7 separate regions of the Homo sapiens genome follow, and all the other regions are reported to be linked to region 1. The links are microRNA targets in miRTarBase. Many come from high-throughput screens and were not tested one by one. Region 1 holds a microRNA gene; each other region holds the end of a gene's coding sequence.
The links. Region 1 holds the annotated microRNA hsa-miR-7160-5p (UGCUGAGGUCCGGGCUGUGCC, at 837-857, shown strand). A microRNA usually pairs through its seed, bases 2 to 8, with sites in the 3' UTR of a target mRNA and lowers its output. Matches are read on the target gene's strand: a 7mer-m8 pairs with bases 2 to 8, a 7mer-A1 pairs with bases 2 to 7 and ends in A, and an 8mer does both.

Region 2: the mRNA of BTLA is a reported target of hsa-miR-7160-5p. The part of its 3' UTR that is shown has no 7-base or 8-base seed match.
Region 3: miRTarBase lists C6orf141 as a target of hsa-miR-7160-5p. The part of its 3' UTR that is shown has no 7-base or 8-base seed match.
Region 4: the mRNA of MCRIP2 is a reported target of hsa-miR-7160-5p. Seed matches in the 3' UTR shown: 7mer-m8 at 762-768.
Region 5: the mRNA of ABHD15 is a reported target of hsa-miR-7160-5p. Seed matches in the 3' UTR shown: 8mer at 578-585, 7mer-A1 at 1,518-1,524 and 7mer-A1 at 2,030-2,036.
Region 6: the mRNA of CLIC5 is a reported target of hsa-miR-7160-5p. Seed matches in the 3' UTR shown: 7mer-A1 at 585-591, 7mer-A1 at 1,917-1,923 and 7mer-A1 at 2,963-2,969.
Region 7: the mRNA of SNAPC3 is a reported target of hsa-miR-7160-5p. Seed matches in the 3' UTR shown: 7mer-m8 at 1,287-1,293.

The regions. Positions count from the first base shown.
Region 1 is chr8:2,075,753-2,078,833 of GRCh38, forward strand. It overlaps MIR7160 (microRNA 7160), which reads left to right and starts at 837; the gene lies at 837-888. It overlaps MYOM2 (myomesin 2), which reads left to right. Exons shown (of 37, transcript NM_003970.4): 11 at 389-530; 12 at 2,982-3,081.
Region 2 is chr3:112,463,509-112,466,589 of GRCh38, reverse strand. It overlaps BTLA (B and T lymphocyte associated), which reads left to right. Exons shown (of 5, transcript NM_181780.4): 5 at 207-2,624. The coding sequence ends at 482. Among named protein-coding and RNA genes, the nearest start is that of BTLA, 34 kb to the left of the region's middle. RefSeq lists enhancers at 1-498, 2,936-3,075.
Region 3 is chr6:49,551,152-49,554,232 of GRCh38, forward strand. C6orf141 (chromosome 6 open reading frame 141) reads left to right here. Exons shown (of 1, transcript NM_001145652.2): 1 at 1-944. The coding sequence ends at 376. Among named protein-coding and RNA genes, the nearest start is that of C6orf141, 2.0 kb to the left of the region's middle. RefSeq lists enhancers at 232-301, 318-837.
Region 4 is chr16:647,623-650,703 of GRCh38, forward strand. It overlaps MCRIP2 (MAPK regulated corepressor interacting protein 2), which reads left to right. Exons shown (of 5, transcript NM_138418.4): 4 at 161-262; 5 at 498-852. The coding sequence ends at 568. WDR90 (WD repeat domain 90) reads left to right here and starts at 1,743. Exons shown (of 41, transcript NM_145294.5): 1 at 1,743-1,804; 2 at 2,141-2,232; 3 at 2,369-2,545; 4 at 2,632-2,740; 5 at 2,917-3,081. The coding sequence starts at 1,795. LOC105371038 (a long non-coding RNA gene) reads right to left here and starts at 1,691. Exons shown (of 2, transcript NR_135177.1): 1 at 1,333-1,691; 2 at 836-993. RefSeq lists enhancers at 308-357, 1,780-2,602 and silencers at 1,778-1,877, 1,988-2,117.
Region 5 is chr17:29,559,873-29,562,953 of GRCh38, reverse strand. ABHD15 (abhydrolase domain containing 15) reads left to right here. Exons shown (of 2, transcript NM_198147.3): 2 at 1-2,407. The coding sequence ends at 393. Among named protein-coding and RNA genes, the nearest start is that of ABHD15, 5.6 kb to the left of the region's middle.
Region 6 is chr6:45,900,341-45,903,421 of GRCh38, reverse strand. It overlaps CLIC5 (chloride intracellular channel 5), which reads left to right. Exons shown (of 6, transcript NM_016929.5): 6 at 167-3,081. The coding sequence ends at 334. Among named protein-coding and RNA genes, the nearest start is that of CLIC5, 110 kb to the left of the region's middle. RefSeq lists enhancers at 657-1,501, 1,205-2,404, 1,806-2,494.
Region 7 is chr9:15,459,486-15,462,566 of GRCh38, reverse strand. SNAPC3 (small nuclear RNA activating complex polypeptide 3) reads right to left here. Exons shown (of 9, transcript NM_001039697.2): 9 at 941-2,848. The coding sequence ends at 2,701. Among named protein-coding and RNA genes, the nearest start is that of SNAPC3, 38 kb to the right of the region's middle.

The DNA.
Region 1 (3,081 bases):
GAAGAGTATCTCAGGTGATATTTCTCAGGTGTTAGAAATGCCAGATTATTGTCACTGTTTCATCCGCACATTTTTGCCAACGTGCCGTTATGCACCATAGCAGGACCAAGAGAAGATGACCTGTAATTCAGGATCTAATGACGAAAAATTGTAGACTCAGTGTTTTATCAAGGATTCTATGTTTTGAAGCTTTTTAATTCATACATAATTTTATATTTCTTGTCACCAACCCGCCAGAGTAAGAAATATTCTAGTACTTTGAACATGAGAATTAAACAGTGGTCAAATCAAGGGGATAGAATTGGAGCTTGGAGGAGCTGTAAACAGGCTTTGCAGTGACCCCAGCCTTTAAATGACAGGCGTGTGCCTTTTCTCTCCCTGCCCCAAGATGCTGACCCGCTGGTCACAGGGGCCCCCGGTGCACCCATGGACTTGCAGTGCCACGACGCCAACCGGGACTACGTCATCGTGACCTGGAAGCCGCCCAACACCACCACTGAGAGCCCCGTCATGGGCTATTTTGTGGACCGGTGAGCGTCTTGCATTCTCCCGGGGATGGGAACGTTCCGCATGGAATCTTACCATGGACAATATATTGAGAAATTTTTCTCAATGCAGGTTGACGTTCCCATTTTTTGATTGGCTCTAGGTACATGGCTAATTGGTTGTATAAGTTCCTATTTAGGTAATTGGTAAATACGGCCAAGTAGGCTGAGCCCAGCATAACCACACTGGGTTTCTTTTTGTTGAAAGTGGAGGCTCGTTTGCCTGTTGCACACCCAGTAACCAATCCCACCAACGTCTTCAGGCTCACTCTGAGCCCCGCGCTGTGGTTCTGCTGAGGTCCGGGCTGTGCCCCGTACCGGACAGGGCCCTGGCTTTAGCAGAATTAAAGCTTGGAACTGTCCTTCCCTCCTGAGAGACAAAGTGCTGCGAAGAATGCCAGCTCATTTCTAACAAAGTTCTTTCCTTTTCTCTACTGAGGAATAAGGTGTTCTTCTTGTTTCCAAGTGAAAAATCTTGAGCTTCGAAATACTGGAGTTTGTGTTTGAGTTGATAACTTACATTTAGGTCATCGTTGGAGCCAGTGGAGTTTGAATTCTTTGACTTCCCGTACTGGGGACAGCGCTTGGAGCCTGGGAAGTGTACTGCACAGAGCCAGTGGGTTTACTGGATATGTAATTTATGCCCTAAATACAAATTCCAGTTCTTGGAGTAAATTATAGTTGAAGAAAATGAATTTAGAAATTAGACAGAGAGTAAAAGAGGATGGTTCTGGCTGGGCACGGTGGCTCACGCCTGTAATCCCAGCACTTTGGGAGGCCAACGCGGGCGGATTACAAGTTCAGGAGATCAAGAGCATGCTGGCCAGCATGGTGAAACCCTGTCTCTACTAAAAATACAAAAATTAGCTGGGTGTGCTGGCATGTGCTTATAATCCCAGCTTCTTGGGAGGCTGAGGCAGGAGCATCTCTTGAACCAGGGAGGCGGTGGTTGCAGTGAGCCAAGATTGCGCCACTGGACTCCAGCCTGGCAACACAGTGAGACTCCACCATCAAAAAAAACAAAACAAAACAAAAAACAAAAAAACAAAACAAAAAAACCACAAAGGATGGTTCCTGGTAGAAATGCAAAATTTTATATGTATATTAAACAGAAAAATAAGGTGATTATCTTAGGAAAAAATGAGGGAATTGGCTTTTGTTTGTTTGTTTGTTTATGCTGATTAAATTCTCTTTTCTCTTCCAACAAAACTACTTGTTTGGCTGAGACCTGTGCCATCAAACTAATATTTTGATATGCTAGAGACAGTTCTGCAGGGAGTGCTGTTCCGGGCTTACCTTGAATTAAGCAACTACAGCAAGAAAAACAAACCCTCAAAACGATCTTCTTTTCTCCTGGGACAGCTGATAAGTTTTCCCGCCATGTTGACAAAAACCATTTCCTGCACTGTCTCAGCTAACAATCCACGCTCCTCCCCTCATTACAAAAAGCGCAAACATGAAATTCAAAGCAACGGAACACTTTGGGAATGAGGGTGCATTTGGAAGTGGGGGGTGCAGCTCCTCCTCTGCCCTTCCTTTGGGCTTACGACTTGCCAGCTGTTGCCTGAAGTTGCAGGTTTTCCCATCAGACTTTTGGTTTTGACCTGTTGTTCTCTTCGGCTAAAACAGCCCATGACATGTGGATCAGACAGCTTTCATTAAAAGTGCTGGATACTTAGGAGGAGAGCTGGTTCTTTCCCAGATGAAGGCACCACTCTGGGGTTGAAGTGCTCCCTCCCAACACTGATTTTCTGAACTAGCTCTTTTCTCCTGGGAATTTCATGTGAAGGTTTTTTTCTTACATTTTTCAACCTGTGAAAAACAGAGGTTAATCTTTCCTATATTTCCAGGTTTCTGGTCAGGAATTAATATTTTCAAAAGACTTCTAAATTCCACATGAGAGGCATTCTAGAAAGAAATGTCCTAACATTATTCTAGGAGACTGTAAGCCAGCTTTCCCAGGGACCTGGGCCCTTGGTCTCACAGAGTGGGACGGGAGCTGGAGGCAGAGGGGGCTGAGCCTGTTTCCCCAGCCTGGGCCTCAGACGGGCCAAGCCGCAGCTTAGGGGTGCCGTGACTATGTCACGTAAGTCGGAACAAGAACTGTTCAGGATGCGTCTAAAATAATTTTTTGAGGAGATTTTTGCCTAAATGTGTTTGATGACAGAAATTGATCTTCAGCTATAAATTATTAAGATTCATGGGCATATATTACATATATAATAGATATTACATATAATATATATATTGCATTTTCTAAATAGCTCTGTCTTCTAATGTTTATCTATACAAGTCAATATCTTAGCAGCAAAGATTTTACTGGCGTGAGATATTGTCCTGTTATAATCAGTGTGTGCATATATGCATATACCTATGTATATTTAGTAGGTTGCCACATTTGCTATTCTCTGTTGTTTTTCTTTTTTTAACTTGAAGATGTGAAGTAGGAACGAATAATTGGGTGCAGTGCAATGATGCACCGGTGAAAATCTGCAAATACCCGGTCACAGGGCTTTTTGAAGGAAGGTCTTACATA
Region 2 (3,081 bases), not on the chromosome of region 1:
GGTGACATAGTGATTCTCAAGCCTTTCATCCTTTAATAATTGAAATTTAGCTGAAAGTGTAGATGTCAGCAGAGTATGTGAGGAACAGTAGATTATTTCTCACAATGGACATGACTCCATTTAAGCTTTTCATTCATAGTTTGCTAATGAATATGCACTACCATGGCCGTAAGTGTCACTTAAAACCATCTTTTTTTCTATTGTAGGTTGATGCTCACCTTAAGAGTGAGCAAACAGAAGCAAGCACCAGGCAAAATTCCCAAGTACTGCTATCAGAAACTGGAATTTATGATAATGACCCTGACCTTTGTTTCAGGATGCAGGAAGGGTCTGAAGTTTATTCTAATCCATGCCTGGAAGAAAACAAACCAGGCATTGTTTATGCTTCCCTGAACCATTCTGTCATTGGACCGAACTCAAGACTGGCAAGAAATGTAAAAGAAGCACCAACAGAATATGCATCCATATGTGTGAGGAGTTAAGTCTGTTTCTGACTCCAACAGGGACCATTGAATGATCAGCATGTTGACATCATTGTCTGGGCTCAACAGGATGTCAAATAATATTTCTCAATTTGAGAATTTTTACTTTAGAAATGTTCATGTTAGTGCTTGGGTCTTAAGGGTCCATAGGATAAATGATTAAAATTTCTCTCAGAAACTTATTTGGGAGCTTTTTATATTATAGCCTTGAATAACAAAATCTCTCCAAAACTGGTTGACATCATGAGTAGCAGAATAGTAGAACGTTTAAACTTAGCTACATTTTACCCAATATACAAACTCGATCTTGCCTTTGAAGCTATTGGAAAGACTTGTAGGGAAAAGAGGTTTGTGTTACCTGCATCAGTTCACTACACACTCTTGAAAACAAAATGTCCCAATTTGACTAACCAACCATAAATACAGTAATGATTGTATATTTCAAGTCAGTCTTCCAAAATAAGAAATTTTTGCTGTGTCAGTCTAAGAATGGTGTTTCTTAAATGCAAAGGAGAAATCATTTTAGGCTTGATGTAAGAAAATGAAAATAATAAATGGTGCAATAAAAATATAGAATATACCAATTGGATATAGGGTAGATGTTCCACATACCTGGCAAACAAATGCTTATATCTACTCTGTTAGATTGATAAGCAAATATAGGTATTAATGGAGCAGTCAACGTATAGCACATTTATGAGGAAAGTAGAGACTCACTGGGTCACATAGACTAATGGATAGGAATGTGACATAATGCTGCTGAATTAATATACTTATGGGCATCTGAATAGTTTAAAAGTTAGTCAGAATAGGTATCACTGGGCAAGTGAAGATAGCTTAAACTGCTTCATGCTTGACTTGATAGCAAGTTAAAGTGCAATTAATGGAATGGAGGAAAACCCAGAATATTTAATTGGTCTGTAGGGGTCAATTTGCTTTCATTCACCACATCTGCATCTTGCTGTTCTTCTTACTAAGGAATCAGGGCAAATCATCTGTAGTGACATATTTTAGTTTGCTAATCATTTATTTTAAAATACTGAGGTTGCAGCCACTTAAGAGTATAGCAAAAGATGGATTCAGATTTTTGGACTTTCCAAAGTACTTGAGTTAAACTATTTCAAAAATAGCCTATAATTTTATTCAACAGTTTGAGGCTATTCGAATTCTCAGGTGCTGCTACTGAATAATGTAATAGTCTTCATACAAAGTGGATAGCAAAGGTTAAAATCCATTTCAACAAATATGTGAGCTGAGCTGCTGCACAAAGGAATGTGATGTGTGTGTGTGTGTGTGTGTGTGTGTGTGTTAGGTGGGGTGGGTGACAACAGAAATGGTGCACGAGAAACTGATCAAATTGACATTATATTTTCAGTTTGCTTATGAAGCTCAAAATACTAGAGTAAATGGGTCATTAAAGAAAATAATATGTGAAATTATGGAGTTTAGAATACAAGTGGGGTATATATACAAAAAGACAAAACTGAGGTTTTGTGGTGGAGAGATTTTCTTAAGTAACACTGGCATTAAGTTTTAGCTCCTTAGATTTGGGGGTGCAAATATTCTTTTGAGTCACTGTTATTTTGCCAATTACACCTAGAATTTCAAGCAACCAATTCGAGATAGGCTGTTTTAGCCAGGCTGCATTTGTGGACAACTTATGTAAGAAAGACATGTTAGAATAGCTGCTTGTGGTATTCTTAAAAATAGAAACAGGAAATATGGGGAGGATACATTTAGCTGTCCTCTTATCAGATGAACACACGAAATTGAACAGTTCCTTCATGATTCTCTCAAACTTAAAAGCAAAATATTTCTGTCTTATTTAAAATATCCTTAGTATGTCTTATAGTAAAGATAATGCTGATAATGATTTCATCTCTAAGATGTATTAATATATTTGTACTGTTTGCCAAAATCACAAATCATTTATGTTTTTATTCCTTTTCAAAATGGTGTCAGAGACATACATGCATTTTCCCAAATGACTCTACTTCACTATTATTTACATGGCTTATTTCATTAGTTTATAGAGGGTTTGAGAAAAAGAATATGTAGATAATTTAATGGTTTTTCACAAATTTTAAGCTTGTGATTGTGCTCAATGAGAAGGTAAAGTTATTAAAACTTATTTGAAATCAATTTGGCATCTGATTTTGTACCCCAAAATGTGTGGACATGAATAGAATACTGATTCTTAAACCCCCTGACACATAAAAGCGACCCGAATAACTTGCTAAACTGCAGACTATTAACTTGCAGCACTAAGAAATTCTGATTCAGGAGGTCTAGAAAATGGCTCTTTAATCATCATCTTTAAAAGACATGCCAACCAATTTTAATATGTTTCCCAGTGTCCACAATTTGAGAAAACTAGTAGAGGCTAGGTTTGGTATATGTGGTTTATTTGATCAGTTTTGTGCACCAACCAAAACTATCTAGTCCCCAGAATGAATTCTCTGGCGCGATCATATCTATTTTGCTAAATATATAAACTTTTTTCAGAGCACTTTTAGGTTCAGCAAAGCTAAGCGGTGAGCATTGAGAGTTTCTATACCGTCTTCCCCCACACATGCACAGTTTCTCCCATCATCAACAT
Region 3 (3,081 bases), not on the chromosome of region 1:
TGGAGAGGACCACGGCGAGGAGCCCAACTACCCTTCTGTCTTTCAACGACAAAAGCGAATTTCTGGCAGGCGTGTAGCCCCGCCGCGGGACGCAGCAGACCCACCCAAATACGTGCTTGTGCGGGTGGAGGATTATCAGGTAACACAAGAAGTGTTGCAGACCTCCTGGGCCAAGGGTCGCATGACCACGAGGACTGAGGAGCACTTCGTGACCGCGCTCACTTTTCGCAGCAGTAGAGAGGGACAGCCTGGGGAACGCTGGGGCCCTGCTGAATCCCGGGCTCTCCAGGCACGAACAGGGGCATCCCGCGTCCACGCCGCGGGGAGGAGGGTTTCACCGTCTCCAGGGACTTGGCTCGAGGAAATTAAACTCTAATGAGTAGCTCGAGAAATGTTCCGGGATGGTGGATGAGCGATCATCCTTAAAAGAAAATGCTATTCTGGGAGCTCCAACCTGCAATTAACCTACAGAAGGAACCTTTTGAGAGGCTGGTGCAGCGCTTCGGGGAGGCAGATTAAGAACTGTAAGCAGCATAATACCTCCTTTGTGGCTTGAATTCCTTCGCTGTCTGGGGACCTAAGTCATTCAGAAGAGGTGGAGAAAAGATATTTTCAGATTGGCAGAATGTGGGAGTTTTGAAATGAGAAAACCTGTTGTTAATTTGCATTTTGGAATAACTCTCAATTGATCTCTTTTCTGTTCCCCGCCCCCCTCTTGTTTCTCTTTAGGACCTAGAAACAGAAGTGAAGTTTGAAGTCTGCTCTCTGCAAAGAGGGTGGGAGTGGGTGGAGAAGAGGCTTGTTTTAAAAGCCAAAAACAGAAAGTAAAAAGAAATGGGAAAGTAAAACCAAAGCAGCAAGTGACTCTCTTCTGATGTGCACTTTTCATTTTTCTCCCCCACATTTCAGTGTTAGAAAGAAAACGAGAGGAGCTAGGGAAAGAAGGAGTTGGGGACAGAAGACTAAGATTTCAACGTGAAATTCCATTTACAAAGGCTTTACTGCAAACAATAGCTAATTTAGTCCTGTAAACATGCATTTATCATACATTTTAATTTTAATATTAAAAATACTGCATGTAAATGTTCTGAACTAAAGGTAGATAGCAATATGTAGTTTGCCATAAAATGAATGCATGTCTTATTCTTTTCCATAGTTCTTCATTAATGAGACTTGTAGTCAAGAATAGATTGAAGATACCATTCTCCTTGTGTAGTTCAAAAAAATCTCCTCTGGTAATACTGAAACAACTAATTTTTCTTATTTTGTTTGTTCCTCTTTATTATTAAATACTATGTGAATTAACTCTTTAGTAGTTGGCCTGGTTGAAGCTCTGTGAGGAGCAAAGCAGCCCTCTCCAGGTGAACTGCTTGACTTTACCACCTGAAGGAGTATTTACTGCAAGAATTAACAAAGCAGGTAGGACTCTGGCTTTTGATGAGCAAATAGTTGAAAAGTGCCTCCTTCCCCAGTCTTCCCTTTTGCCTTCATTTTTAGTTTAGAGCTTGAAGTGTTCTCAAAAGATCATCTGATCTACCTCTTGCCTCCTGGCAGGCCAGATAGATAAGATGCCCCTGTTTTACTCATGAGCCAACCTAGGCCTAGAGGTCTTGTAGCATGTCTAAGTCACACAGCTAGTAATTGCATATGCTTACTAAGTGGATGAAGAATGTGATAATCTCCCTCCTAAAGGTTTGGGGCAGCCTTTAGAGGATTTATTTGACCCTTACTTAGGGGTCAAAAGATGCCTGAGGATATCCTAGGTTTTCTTTCTTTTTCTATTTTTTTCTTTTTTTTGAGACAGAGTTTCTCTCTTGTTGCCCAGACTGCAGTGCAACGGCACGATCTTGGCTCACCACAACCTCTACCTCCAGGGTTCAAGCGATGCTCCTACCTCAGCCTCCTCAGTAGCTGGGATTACAGGCATGTGCCATCACCCCGGCTAATTCTGTATTTTTAGTAGAGATGGGGTTTCTCCATGTTGGCCAGGCTGGTCTTGAACTCCCAACCTCAGGTGATCCTCCTGCCTCCGCCTCCCAAAGTGCTGGGATTACAGGTATGAGCCACCATGCCTGGCCAATATCTTAGGTTTTCTAACTCATGTTTATGAGAAGTACTAGAATCACCTTAATGTTCCTGAATTCTGCAAGGCCTCTTGGCTGGAGAATCATCACTAGCAGTTCTTAGGCCTGTGAGACCCTCACTTGGGAGAGGAATTCAGCATCTGAGCTCATCTGTGTTCAAAATTGCTTGACAGGTAGAAAAGATTCATCCCTTAAAATGAATCTCTTTTCCTTAACAACCCTCCCTGACTCCAGTGGGAGATTAACTTACTTGGCATGTAAGTTTCAGACCTGAGCTTATTAATTTGGTTGAATCATCACATGTCCCAGGTGACTAATCATTGAATATAGAGAACAAAAAAAGTCTCTTTCACAATAACCAAAAATGGTAAGTAGCATCACTCAGCTGCCTTCTCTGGAGGCAATTTCTGGCGTTCAGCTGCTTGGGTTCAAAACTGGCTCTACCTCTTTATTAACTTGTGTCCTTGGGCAAGTTGCCTTATCTCTGTGTGCCTCTGTATCCTGATTTGTTAAGTGGGGACAATAAATAGTATCAACTTCATAGAGGGTTTTTTTTTTTTAGGGTTAAGTTAAATGAAAATACTTAGAACCCTGCCTGTCATACAATAAATCCTCAAAGTTAGTTACATTTTTTATTATTAGCACGGTTATTGTTTAGTTCACTTTTCATCCTAACTAGGCTTTAGTCTTTTGTTTAGTAACAAAAAGCAGAAATTGTATAACACAAGAAAGCTAATGAAAGTCAAGCCGGTGGTTTTTAATAAGACTCTTCTCTACTCCTGAAAGAAAGGACTTATTTCTAGCTTTTCCTAACCTTTAATGGATCAGTAAGTATATTTCTTAAATTCTTTAGAAATGACCTTCACATCTTCTGTAGGGACTCATGGTAAAGCTCAAAGGACTAAGGTACACTATCCTTAACAGTCACTGAAAAGAGTTTACATACCTCCTAGTTCTGGGCAGATGGGAGCTTTGAATACTTTCTTTGACCTGTCAG
Region 4 (3,081 bases), not on the chromosome of region 1:
TGACCCACAGCCGCTGCATGGCTGTGCTTTTCCTTGGCACTCTGCCCTTGTGTCCTGTGACCAGCCCTGTGTGGGGCTGGAGTCCAGGGTGACCATCAGGCCCTGGGTGGGCGATGGGGTGCCTGGGACCTGGCTCAGCCCGACTGCCCTCCTCCCACAGCCTGGCAGCAGGTGCAACAGCAGCTGGATGGTGGCCCAGCCGGTGAGGGCGGGCCAAGGCCTGTGCAGTACGTGGAGAGGACCCCCAATCCCCGGCTGCAGAGTGAGCCCCCCAACCCTGTCCCCCCAGGAGAGACCCCCCAGCCCCTCTGATCCTGACCCAGGCCCTGCCAGGTTCCCACCCCAGGGGATGAGGGAGGGGACTCTTGTGCAGAAACCCCTTCTTCCCAGCGCCTGCCGCACTCGGAGTCCGGGTGAGCGGCTTGTGGTTAGCTCCAGGGGAGACTTGCCGGCTGGCCTGGGAGGCAGCATCACTGCCCAGCCTTCTCTGCCCACAGACTTTGTGCCCATTGACCTAGACGAGTGGTGGGCGCAGCAGTTCCTGGCGAGAATCACCAGCTGTTCCTAGTGGCTGCTGGGAGGGGGCGCTGCTACACGGCCGACCTGTCGCCAGGAGAGAAGCATGGCGCCCTGCCCACCCACTGCGCCTGGCTGGGTGCCGGCCACACCTGAAGTGCCAGCATTTGGACTTTTGCACCTTTTTTTCCCTTGGCCCGGCTGTCCCAACCAAGCTGCCATGGCCAAGGGCCGAACCCGTCTGACCTCAGCCCTGCTCACTGTGCCCAGGGACCAGCGACCAGCCCCTGGGGCTGGCAGGGAGGAGCTCCAGGCTAATAAAGTGGAGAAACTGTCTTTTTGGAGTGTCTTTGACTTGGGAGGGTGTAGGGGGGGTTCTCATGTCCAGTTCCAGTCCACAGCCTGGGACGCCAGGCCCAGCACAAACTCCCCTTGTAGCCCTGTTCCTTCAAGCCGTTAGCTTCTCACCCAGCTGCCCTGCGACAGGTAGGAGGGACGTTAGCCAGCCCACCTTGCTTGGAAGTCTGGGGACCCCACTTGGTTCCTCTTTCCTCTCCCGTTGGCGTTGACTGGGACCGAAGCCGAGACTCAAGGCCTAAAGACATTAAATGGCCCCGGAGTGCAGTCCACCACCCCCCACTACCGGCACTGGGGCTGTGTCTCAGAACGCCAGGTCCCATTCTGAATCCGCCGGGCCCGGCCGCAGGACACTGGGCGAAGGAGTACGTGGGGAACCTGATAGGACGAACGTGGGAACCAGCCCCTCCGCGGGCGCCCGCACTACCTTCCCTGATGGACGGGGATGACCCAGCCCACCTGAGTCAGGACCCAGGGTACCCAGGTGTGGAGCAGGGGCCTCTGGACGGCGAGAGAGCGGCAGGGTGAGGCCCGGCCGTCCGTGGCATGGCCAGGCCTCAGCGCGACCTCGCCTCGCTGCTTGCATGCGGCGGGAGCCCCGGCCGGCCGAGGCGCTGACAGGTGGGCGCGGCGGAGGATCCGCAACCGGCGCGGGCTTCGAAGCCGGTCGGGCTAACAGGGGGCTGCCTTGGGAGGCCCGCGGGGCAAAGGGCAGCGGGATTCGCGGCTGGAGCAACCCTGGAGGCCGCTGACGTGAGCGGGGTACTCCCACCGGGGAGGTCACGTGGCCAGGGCGCCGCCATGACGGCGGAAGTAATGGCGGAAGTGGCACCGTTGCCAGGCAGCCGTTGCCTGGCGTCGCGGGGCGTACTCTGCGCTGGGCGCGCGGAGGCCTAGGCGGGAAGCTCGAGCGGCGGCGCCATGGCCCGAGGTAGCGCGCGGCTGGCGGGGGTCCCGAGGATCCCGGGTTCCGGGGTTCCGGGGTCCAGGGTCGGCGGCCGGAGCGCTCAGGGCCCCCGCCTAGGCCCTGAGGCCAGAGTCCCCGCTCAGGCAGGGTCCCGTCTGCCGGGCGCCCACCCTCGGGCTCCCGGAGCTTGGCTTCCCTCGGGCGCCCGGCCTCGTCCCGCCAGCCTAGCTGGCGTTGGCGTCGCCGGGGAAGGCGCGGAGAGCCCCGGCTCCTGCCTGGTCCCCGAGGCCCGGCCCAGCCCCGCAGTGGCCCCGGCTCGCGTGGCCGAGTCCCCTGACGCCCGGCGCCCGCTCCCCGCAGCGTGGCAGCACCCGTTCCTCAACGTCTTCAGACACTTCCGGGTGGACGAGTGGAAGCGCTCCGCCAAGCAGGGGGACGTGGCCGTGGTCACGGTAGGCGGCCGGGGGCTCGCCCGGAGCCCACACCCCTGCCCTGCCCCCAGGAGAGCTGCCCCGCCCCCGAGGGCCCCCTCGCCCCCGCTGCACTTCTTCTGGGTGCTGTCGGTGATGCGGGCTCCCGCTTCTCCAGGACAAGACCCTGAAGGGCGCCGTGTATCGCATTCGGGGCTCAGTCTCTGCCGCCAACTACATCCAGCTCCCTAAGAGCAGCACCCAGTCTCTGGGGCTGACGGGACGATACCTGTATGTGCTCTTTCGGCCCCTGCCCAGCAAGCACTTCGTCATCCACCTCGATGTGTCCTCCAAGGTACGGAGCCCGCGGCTGGGGGCTGCGTGGGAGCCCCGGCACCCCTGCGGCCCCTGTCTCCTCACGGCCCTGCTCCGTCCCCACAGGACAACCAAGTCATCCGTGTGTCTTTCTCCAACCTCTTCAAGGAGTTTAAGTCTACGGCCACGTGGCTCCAGTTTCCCTTGGTCCTGGAGGCCAGGACACCTCAGAGAGGTGACACCAAGATGGGGTGTGGATGATCCAGGACAGGTGGCTGGAGGGAGTTGGTGCAGGCCCAGTGAGGCTCCTCTGCGGCCTGGAGGACAACCTGGCGGGGGCACAAGCTCACAGTTCTGGGAGTCGCGGGCTGTCAGGAGGGTGGGCGCTGACCCTGAGTGCCCATCCTGCAGATCTGGTGGGTTTGGCCCCCTCCGGAGCCCGCTGGACCTGCCTGCAGCTCGATCTGCAGGACGTTCTCCTGGTCTACCTGAACCGGTGCTACGGCCATCTCAAGAGCATCAGGCTGTGCGCCAGCCTGCTGGTCAGGAACCTGTACACCAGTGACCTGTGCTTTG
Region 5 (3,081 bases), not on the chromosome of region 1:
AACGACCCGCTCCGGGATGTCGATGAGGCAGCCGTGCCTGTGCTGTGTATCTGCAGTGCTGACGACCCCGTGTGTGGACCCCCAGACCACACTCTGACAACTGAACTCTTCCACAGCAACCCCTACTTCTTCCTCCTGCTCAGTCGCCACGGAGGCCACTGTGGCTTCCTGCGCCAGGAGCCCTTGCCAGCCTGGAGCCATGAGGTCATCTTGGAGTCCTTCCGGGCCTTGACTGAGTTCTTCCGAACGGAGGAGAGGATTAAAGGGCTGAGCAGGCACAGAGCTTCCTTCCTTGGGGGCCGTCGTCGTGGGGGAGCCTTGCAGAGGCGGGAAGTCTCTTCCTCTTCCAACCTGGAGGAGATCTTTAACTGGAAGCGATCATACACAAGGTGAAAGACCTGGCCTGAGAACCCCCAAGTCCTGCAAAGAAAAACAGAGCTGGGCAAGGGGGAGTCCTGGAAAGATGGGGCGGACTGAACAGAGGGAGCTCCAGCTCTGTGCTCCTCATTCAGTCCCTCTCTCTTAAATTGGTGCCTTGAAAGAGAAGGAACGTCCTGCGAGCCTGCACTCACTTCATCCTCAGCAGAACTCCTGCCTGGCCTCTGCTCAACATATCCCTACTCATCCGGTCAGCAGCGGCGCGTTCCAGTCACTGTCACCTGTCACTGACATCACAAGCCAAAGGATAGCACTTTTTCAATCCATGGACTCAGGAGAAAATGCCCTCTTACTGGCAGTGGCTAGAGGGATGAGACGTTTGTGTATGTCACTGGGCAGTGACCCCGATTCTCAAGCTGGAGCCATTTGATGTCATGAGGACAGGATGTTTGTGTCTCGGCCCCACTTCCCTCATTTGCTCTGTGGTTGTGGCGCCCTGCTTTGACCGAATGCTCTGGCAACTGCGGCAGCAGGCTTGTGTGTGTGAGAAGGGCGGCAGAGGCAGTGGGGCTGGCTCGCTGAGGGCTGAGCAGGTAGAGAATGTGAATGTCCATCTCAAGGAATGCGAAGTTCCAATCTCTCAGAGGAGCTCTGCAAGTCTCAGCTAGGAATGGGGCTGATCTGGCCCCCAAGCCTCACTGGAGAGATCCCAAGGGTATTTTACAAATAGGAAGCGCTCTCATGCAGGATCTGAGGGCTTTGCTAGACCATGGTTCAAGGAGTCAGAATCTTGGCTACCCTACATGCTCCCTCTGGCACCATTTCAGGGGATTACTCCAGAGAGCTGCAGCCAGAACTGTTTATCTCCTGAGATATGGACTTTCTCTAAGTCAGGAAAAGCACAAACCTCATAACTTAGGTGTTTTCTGGTTGGTTGCTCCCTTTTCTGATCCTACTACTGGCCTCTCCCTTTCCAGAGCCAGGAGACACATCTGGGACCAGAGGAAACAAAAGCACCAAGAGGTTGACTAGAGCTGACCAGTGATTTACAAATATTTCATATTCCAATGCTTCGTCTGCTCAATTATTCAAAAGGCCATCCCTGTAAAGGCAGAAAAGCTTCCTCTTAGATCTGGCCACTCAGCAAATAAGTGGGTATTTGGTTTTATGAAGAATAATGCTGAGGACTAGAGATATAGTATATCAGAGATAATATATAGTATACAGGTTGATCTAAATATTCTGGTTTGGATTAGGCAATTAAAATTTTTTTGGCAACAGGACATATGTTTCCATGTGTTGCTAAGATTCAAAAACTTTGCCCTGAAGTTTTATTTTAATCGTCATTGAGAAAGAGGGCTCCTGTTCTGACCTCAAAAACAGCAAAGCTGTTGTAAAGAAGAGAGCTGCTTATACGAAAACCCACATTCCAAGACTTGGTATAAGGTATTCCTGAGGCCTTGATTTCAGGTTTGGATAATCTTGCCCCAGATTCTAGATCTTGTTCTTCTAGATCAAATCAGAAGAAACTTTGAAATAACTCCAAGAATCTGCACTGAAATGTAGACAGCACTCGATAATCTAAGGGACATTATCTTGTTGTGAAAAATTATCTCCCTCCTGGCTGGGAGCGGTGGCACACACCTATAATCTCAGCACTTTGGGAGGCCGAGGTGGGTGGATCACGAGGTCAGGAGATCGAGACCATCCTGGCTAACACAGTGAAACCTCATCTCTACTAAAAATACAAAAAATTAGCCGGGCGTGGTAGCGGGTGCCTGTAATCCCAGTTACTCAGGAGGCTGAGGCAGGAGAATGGCGTGAACCCGGGAGGCGGAGCTTGCAGTGAGCTGAGATCGCACCACTGCACTCCAGCCTGGGCGACAGAGTAAGACTGTGTTTCAAAAAAAAAAAAGAAAAGAAAAATTATCTCCCTTCTCCCCACTTCTTGTTTCTCCTCCTCCATATTCCTCATCTGACGTTCTTTTGCCGTTTCTAAGCAGGATAAATAAAAAGGAACTGAAATTAAGCTGCTCTACTGCCGGTGAACAACAGCCTTGGTGTAAGCCTTGGTGAGGGAGATTTACTGCCATCTGGCCATCCGCTACCACCAGCTGCCCTCCACATCTGGTACAGTGAGGATTTCAGTTAATTAGGGTCCCGTAGTCCCAGTTGCCCTGCAAAATGGGAAGCAGCCTAGTGGTTTTTAAACCCTAAGGCTTAAAGAGTCCCTAAGGGTGAAAATCTGCATAGTTTCTCTAGAAACTATCCAGATAATGCAAGATTCTGGTTCTTCAAGAGAATAGCTTTTGGAGAAATAGTGGTTGGTTTTCCTTTCCCTTTTGATAGGAAAGAAAGTTTTCCAGGGAGAGAAATGTATAAACTTTGTAGTTACAGTCAGAAGAATGGCAGAATCAGCCCCAGTTCACGTTCCATTAATTCCTTTGAACCCTGAACTCTAGTGACCCGAACCCTAAAGTATTTCTCTTCCGTGGCCCTTGTGCCAGATGCACCCACTGCATATCCCAAGAACATTCTCTGATTTTCCCATTACTACTTGAAGACTAGGGCTGAAATGCCTGTTTTGTGCTGAGAAAGTGTAATTTCTGTTCAAGCAGGAAAGATTTGGATGGCCCTGTCCTTTAGCCTAATGATTCAAGAATCACACAGGTGAATTCTGCTTTGGTAAATAGCTAATTGTGT
Region 6 (3,081 bases), not on the chromosome of region 1:
AAAAAGAAGACAGCACTGCCACCTTGCATTTCAAACATATCACTGATGGCCCGTGGTGATGCACGGAGGTTTCCTGCAGTGCACACACACTGGGACGGCCACTAACACTTTCTAATGATTTGTTTCATGCCTTCACACCACCTCTGTCCTGCCATCTCTGTTTTAGATTGTGGCCAAGAAATACCGCAACTATGATATCCCGGCTGAGATGACAGGCCTGTGGCGGTACCTCAAGAACGCCTATGCCCGTGATGAGTTCACCAACACCTGTGCAGCTGACAGTGAGATCGAGTTGGCCTACGCTGATGTCGCCAAACGCCTCAGCCGATCCTGAGCACAGCCATTTTGCCCCATCCCCGCTGCAGAAGGACTCAACCACTCCCCTAAGACTCCAGCTTCATAGACTCCTCTGTATCACTGCCTTGAGGCGCACTTTTTATAATCAAGCCTCATCTTGCTGGTATCATGGGAACTCCAGCCTGCTATCTTTCATGAAGGTCAGCACCATCCCTGGCCTCCTCACATAGGAATCTAGCAGAAATGATAGACACAGTCCACCTTTCGGCCGGCCAGCCTGATCTGGGCTCAGCATGTTTGGGGTCAGTCAGTGTTGGAGAGCCCACATATGGGATTGCCACTAGCTTCTTCTGCCAATATCAAAATACCTTCTCAGATGCTTTAGAAACATGCAACACCAACTCCTTTTCTACCCTCCTCTCCGTCCATACCTACAAGGCCAAGGACAAACGCCATCTTCATCCTTCTTAGAAAGAGATCTATTACCCCATTAGGGGAGACAGAGAGAGTGAATGGAGGAGTACCGAGCTGGCTATGGACTTGGGTGTCTGGCAAACACAGCTTCAGTCTCACTACTTCTGACACTCTGGTTATTGGGCACTAAGGGCCAGACTGGAAAGTCACTTGAGACACATTCTCAGTTTGTTGCAGTGCCAGGAATGCTGCGCTGCTGCTGCTGCGCACCTGGCCCATGCTGTCCCTGGCTTCCATGCCGTCCAGGCCCTGCCAGAAAAGGAAATTGGCATGCAATTCTAAACTGCAGTGACTGGGATGGGAGGGGAGGGGAGCAGTGTTGATGCCAAAATACCCACGGGGTCTACCAGCCATGGGGTTTGCTTGCTTAGGAGTAGTTGTTTCAGAGGTGATTACAGGCCTGGGTTTGACTGTGCTTACCAATGAGTGGTTTTTGAGCTATGAGAAAGTGGATGGGAGTGGGAGGAGGAGAGATGGGTGAAGACAAAAGAGTTCTTTATGAGCCTCGATGTTCCCTGGTAAACTTTTAAAAAGGCCTTCTCTCATGATCTAAGTCTTGGACTGGTGGCATCATGTAACTGCTAACCTTACAGTAAAAACCCAAGAATGGGTCAAAAATGTCTTCCCAGTTTCTCCAAGCTGCTTCTGGAATGCAGGTCTGTCGGCTGGGTGCTCTCCAGCAGCTGCTCCTGCCTGATTCAACTGTAGCCTGTAATGGGTAAAAGCCACATTTAGGAGGTGGTCTGATCATAGAACACCTTAGGAAGAAAGTCCATGAGACTTTCTGACTAGGAAACCATGTGGTTTGAACTTGAAGAAAAATGTAGACCCATCTGGGTTAATTTTCCTACAATCTGACTCAACTGCCAGGTGAAAAAAAAAAGGAAAAATTTTTAAGCTAATATTTCACTCTTTTGTCATTCTCCTTAAGTTTCATCTCCTAAAAAGCTTACCCAGCCTGAGCTTGGGGACCTGTGCAGAGGAAACTAAGAAAAATGCACTCATCAACTCCTTCTCCCAGTGAACGCCCGGTGAGAAAATCCATTTGCCACAGGCCCTTACCTTCAACAATCCCCCTTCTATAGTGTTCGCTGGTAAAGGGTGAGGCTCCCAAGTGCTGGAAAGCCCCTGGACTTGGCTCATTTCTCAGCAAGGGCAGGATAGCACGGGTCCTTTCCATAGAAATATCAACAAATTCTAACCCAAGCAATCCCTGGACCTACCTGCCTCCAGGGATCTCTGAAGAAAAAAAGTAACCCATTGATCAAATCAGAGGAGAGGAAGCAGGAGGTCTCCTAGAGCCCATTGAGGAAGAGGAACTTTCTCAGTAGGACACTTTATAAGCCTGAGAAAGCTTTGAAAAGGCGGAATGAGTTGATTCATTTCCACCTCAAAAGGAACCTTTCCAGGTCCCCCTGGAAATTGTGCCCTGGAGATGTTTAACAAGGAGAACTGGTGAGGAAAGAGTCCTTTTTTACTGTAGGGAAAAGCCCCAAACTGGCCTCCTGGGGGATGAGGGCTGAAATGATCCCGAAGGCCTTTTAATTAGTGTGAAATCCTGCTGTACTCAGAAATCCTTCCCCGAATTTACAGCACAGGCAGGATGACCTAAGAGGCAGTTTACTTCCCTGAGACCCACAGTTGGGCTGTTCTGGAAACACATCTGTGAATCATAGCCAATTGCCACAGAGAAAACAGAACCAAGCCTCCGGTGAGGCCACTCCACCCCAGAGAAGTCTGCAGAATTCCAAGGACTCGGATTGGATGTTCAGAATTCAGCAACTGGAAAGTCCTTAAAAACAAACAGGCCAAACCAAATCAATATTGCTGTTTCTAGATGTCCCTTCTGTGGTTGAGCTAGTTTTACAGAGATAAATATATTAAGACAAGGAGGTGGGGGTGTTATATGATCAATGATAGCCATTTGAAAGAGAGGGAGGAGTACAGAAGGAAGGCACTTCTGGGTACTTAATTCAGAAATTTCTTTATATTTCAGCACTGGATTATCATATAATGCAAGTGACTATGGACTAAGAGTTAGTTATGGTGTCTTATGACTAGATTTATTATGGTATATTAAAGTAACAATAATATTAATATTACCTTCCTTTTTTTTTTTGTTTCAAAAGAGATCTTTCTCCAGATGCTTCAGCCTGTCTGGCCTTCTTATCATATGTGCAGCACATCATGTCTCAGCAACAGTGTGGTGAGGTCCTTAGGTGTCCCAAGAACAACTCAGGGAGCACGGGAGGGTCTGCAGTTGGGACCCCACAACTATACAGCTATAGGGTAGGAGGCTTCCTTTTCATT
Region 7 (3,081 bases), not on the chromosome of region 1:
GTTGCCTATCTTCATTAGCTAATGTGTTACATGTAATTTGACAGGCGTGTTACATTTGATTGAAATAAGCATAAAGAAAAGCTGCCTCGAAAAAAGAGAAAAGCTGTCTTAAATCAGGGGTTTTATAGCTCCAGAAATATACAAAGTTAGGAATTTCTTTTGACTTGAACTTGGTGGGATACCTGTATAACTGATACATAACACACGGGCAAACTGTGGGAGTAACCTGGTTGATTAACTTTTCTCCTCAGTTTCACCAGGGAACAATAATAGGTACCTGAGTCTTTGATGAAAAACTTAACCTTAAGAACTAGCAAAATAACATTCTCAAATAATTAATAAAGAATCCCAGTAGCAGAAATGTTTTAACTGGCATGTTTCTTCTTTGTCCGCTAAAATGTATTGACACCACACATGGAATAATGCATTATGACAATAATTAACTTTTTGAAGTTTGGTGTTTTGAGAGTATGAAATGAATGAATAAGATAAAATATCCTTGCATATGCATGTAAGACCTATAAGGAACGCAGTATTGAAAATAAAGGAATCAAAATTTTTACCCATGGAATTTTAGGGTTGGGTAAATCATTCATTTATCTTAAATCTATGGTTTGCTGGCAGTTATCAATCTGCTCAATTTTAGCATTGTTGTATACAAGAAAGTAAAAATTTAGGTATAACATAAGCCAGCCTCTTAAGTTCTCTATACTGATTATCTGTGTACTGACTGAATCAGTGAATGAGAACACTAGACATACCAGAAACTCGTGCTTGTCATCTCCAAGCCAATGGACTTAACTGTTTGTGGCATTTAAGTCCATAAAACATACTTCACTGTCAAACACATAGGCTTATAGGTTTCGTCAGTTTTCCATGTGTAAGATAAATGTCTGTTCTTAGCCATCCAGATATTCAGTCAAATTTAAATACAACCTAGGAGAGAGAAAGTGGAATTTATTTATTTTAAATGATGCATTTGAAATCTATAGTATTCCTAAAAGTCTTCTAAACAGTATTAAATGTTCTACCCATAAAGGTTCCCAGAAAATATTTGAATAAATCTATCTGATGGTCTAGACCTGAAAATAAAGAAAGTTTATTTTGCTGGGCGCTGTGGTTCATGCCTGTAATCGCAGCACTCTGGGAGGCCAAGGCGGATGGATCACTTGAGGTCAGGAGTTCGAGACTATTCTGCGCAACATAGTGAAACCCTGTATCTACAAGAAATAAAAAAATTAGCCCGCCATGGTGGCCTGTGCCACCATGTCTCAGCTACTCGGTAGGCTGAGGTGGGAGGATCACCTGAGCCTAGGGAGGTCAGGGCTCCAGTGAGCCAAGATCACGCCACTGTACTCCAGCCTGGGTGACACAGTAAGACCCTATGTCAAAAAATAAGTTTAAAAAGTTTTGGTTTTTTTTTTTTTCCTCAGAATAAGATGAGAGTAACTAGAATTACTATAGTAAGGGGACCAGAAGAATGGAAGACCTGGGCCAGGAAAACTTATTTTTTTTCTTTTTGCTTATATAATTTTGGTATATATCCAATAGTATCATTACCGGAGAATAAGTGAGCCAGAGCTAGCAATCAATAGGATCTTGATTTTTCCATGTCCCCACAGTCATACGAAATCTGCTATTGTTTTTTAAATCATAGTATTAAATTGACATATTTTAAACTCATAACATTCATAAAGCTTTTGTCAAGAAATAAAGCTTCAAGTTAATGTTATTTCTGGAGTTATGAGTATATACTCAAGATCTTTTTAAATTCATTATTCACATAGTCTTATTAACATGTCTTGTATGCCTAGTTTCCTCCAAAACAAAACCTAACATTACTAAACAGCACACTAAGATTAAATTCCCCCAAAGCAGCCGGGCGCGGTGGCTCACGCCTGTGATCCCAAAATTTTGGGAGGCTTAGGCGGGTGGATCGCCTGAGGTTAGGAGTTTGAGACCAGCCTGGCCAACATGGTGAAACCCCGTCTCTACTAAAAATACAAAAATTAGCCAGGCATGGTGCCAGGTGCCTGCAATCCCAGCTACTCAGGAGGCTGTGGCAGGAGAATCACTTGAATCCGGGAGGCGGAGGCTGCAGTGAGCTGAGATTGCGCCACTGTATTCCAGCCTGGGCAACAAGAGCGAGATTTTGTCTCAAAAAATAAATAATCCCAAAGCTATTAATTTTGTCTTATTTGTAAATAATTCATTCTCCCTAGTTTCCATTACAGTTATTTGAAGGATCTTTACCTTGGAAGCCTCATGGTAGAAGGTGTAGCTCTCACATTCTTCAAAGAATTTTCAAAACACTTCCACTACTTGATGTATCATTAATAATTCTATCTTTAGCAAAAAACTCTGGACAGAGAATGAATAGGGAAGGCATGGATTGGGAGAAAGAATATGTGTGTCTGACAAAGGATTTAAAGTCAGAATATATAAAGTACTACAACTCAACTCAAAATGGGTAAAAAGCACTAAATTAAATACTATCTGGAATAAATATAAAATTAAACTATGTTATAAACATTTAAATACTATCATTATAAGAAAATCTGTCATTTGGACTTTTTTTTGATAGCTTTAGCGGACTGTTCAAAGTGGATCCTGTTCCTCAGTGGCGTTTCTTAGAAATAAGGTAACCATCCAAGAGAACAGTTATTTCATGAGGGGGTATTTTTGTGAGTGTAGCTATTCTTAATTAAAGGTTCCAGGATCAACATAAGGATAAGCAAGGAATTCCCCCAGTTTGTTGCCTTCTGAATCATAGTGCAGCATTCGGAAGCAAACATCACAAAAGAAGCATGGGTCCTCTGGTGCAAAACTGTCATTGTTCGTCACCCATCTGTAGTTTTTAAAAAAAGAAGTACATCATTACAATCAAATTTGCCATACTTAACATGCTTTATGACCTGTAGCAATATGTAAATATAACATTCTATTTCCTTATCAGTCTGTTATTAATGCATAATAATCCCTTAATTTTGTATACATAGATACAAATACATCACCACCAATACTCTCTCTACAAAGCGAAAGGGCATCTAACATTAAGAAACACTGCAGAATGCTGTTTCT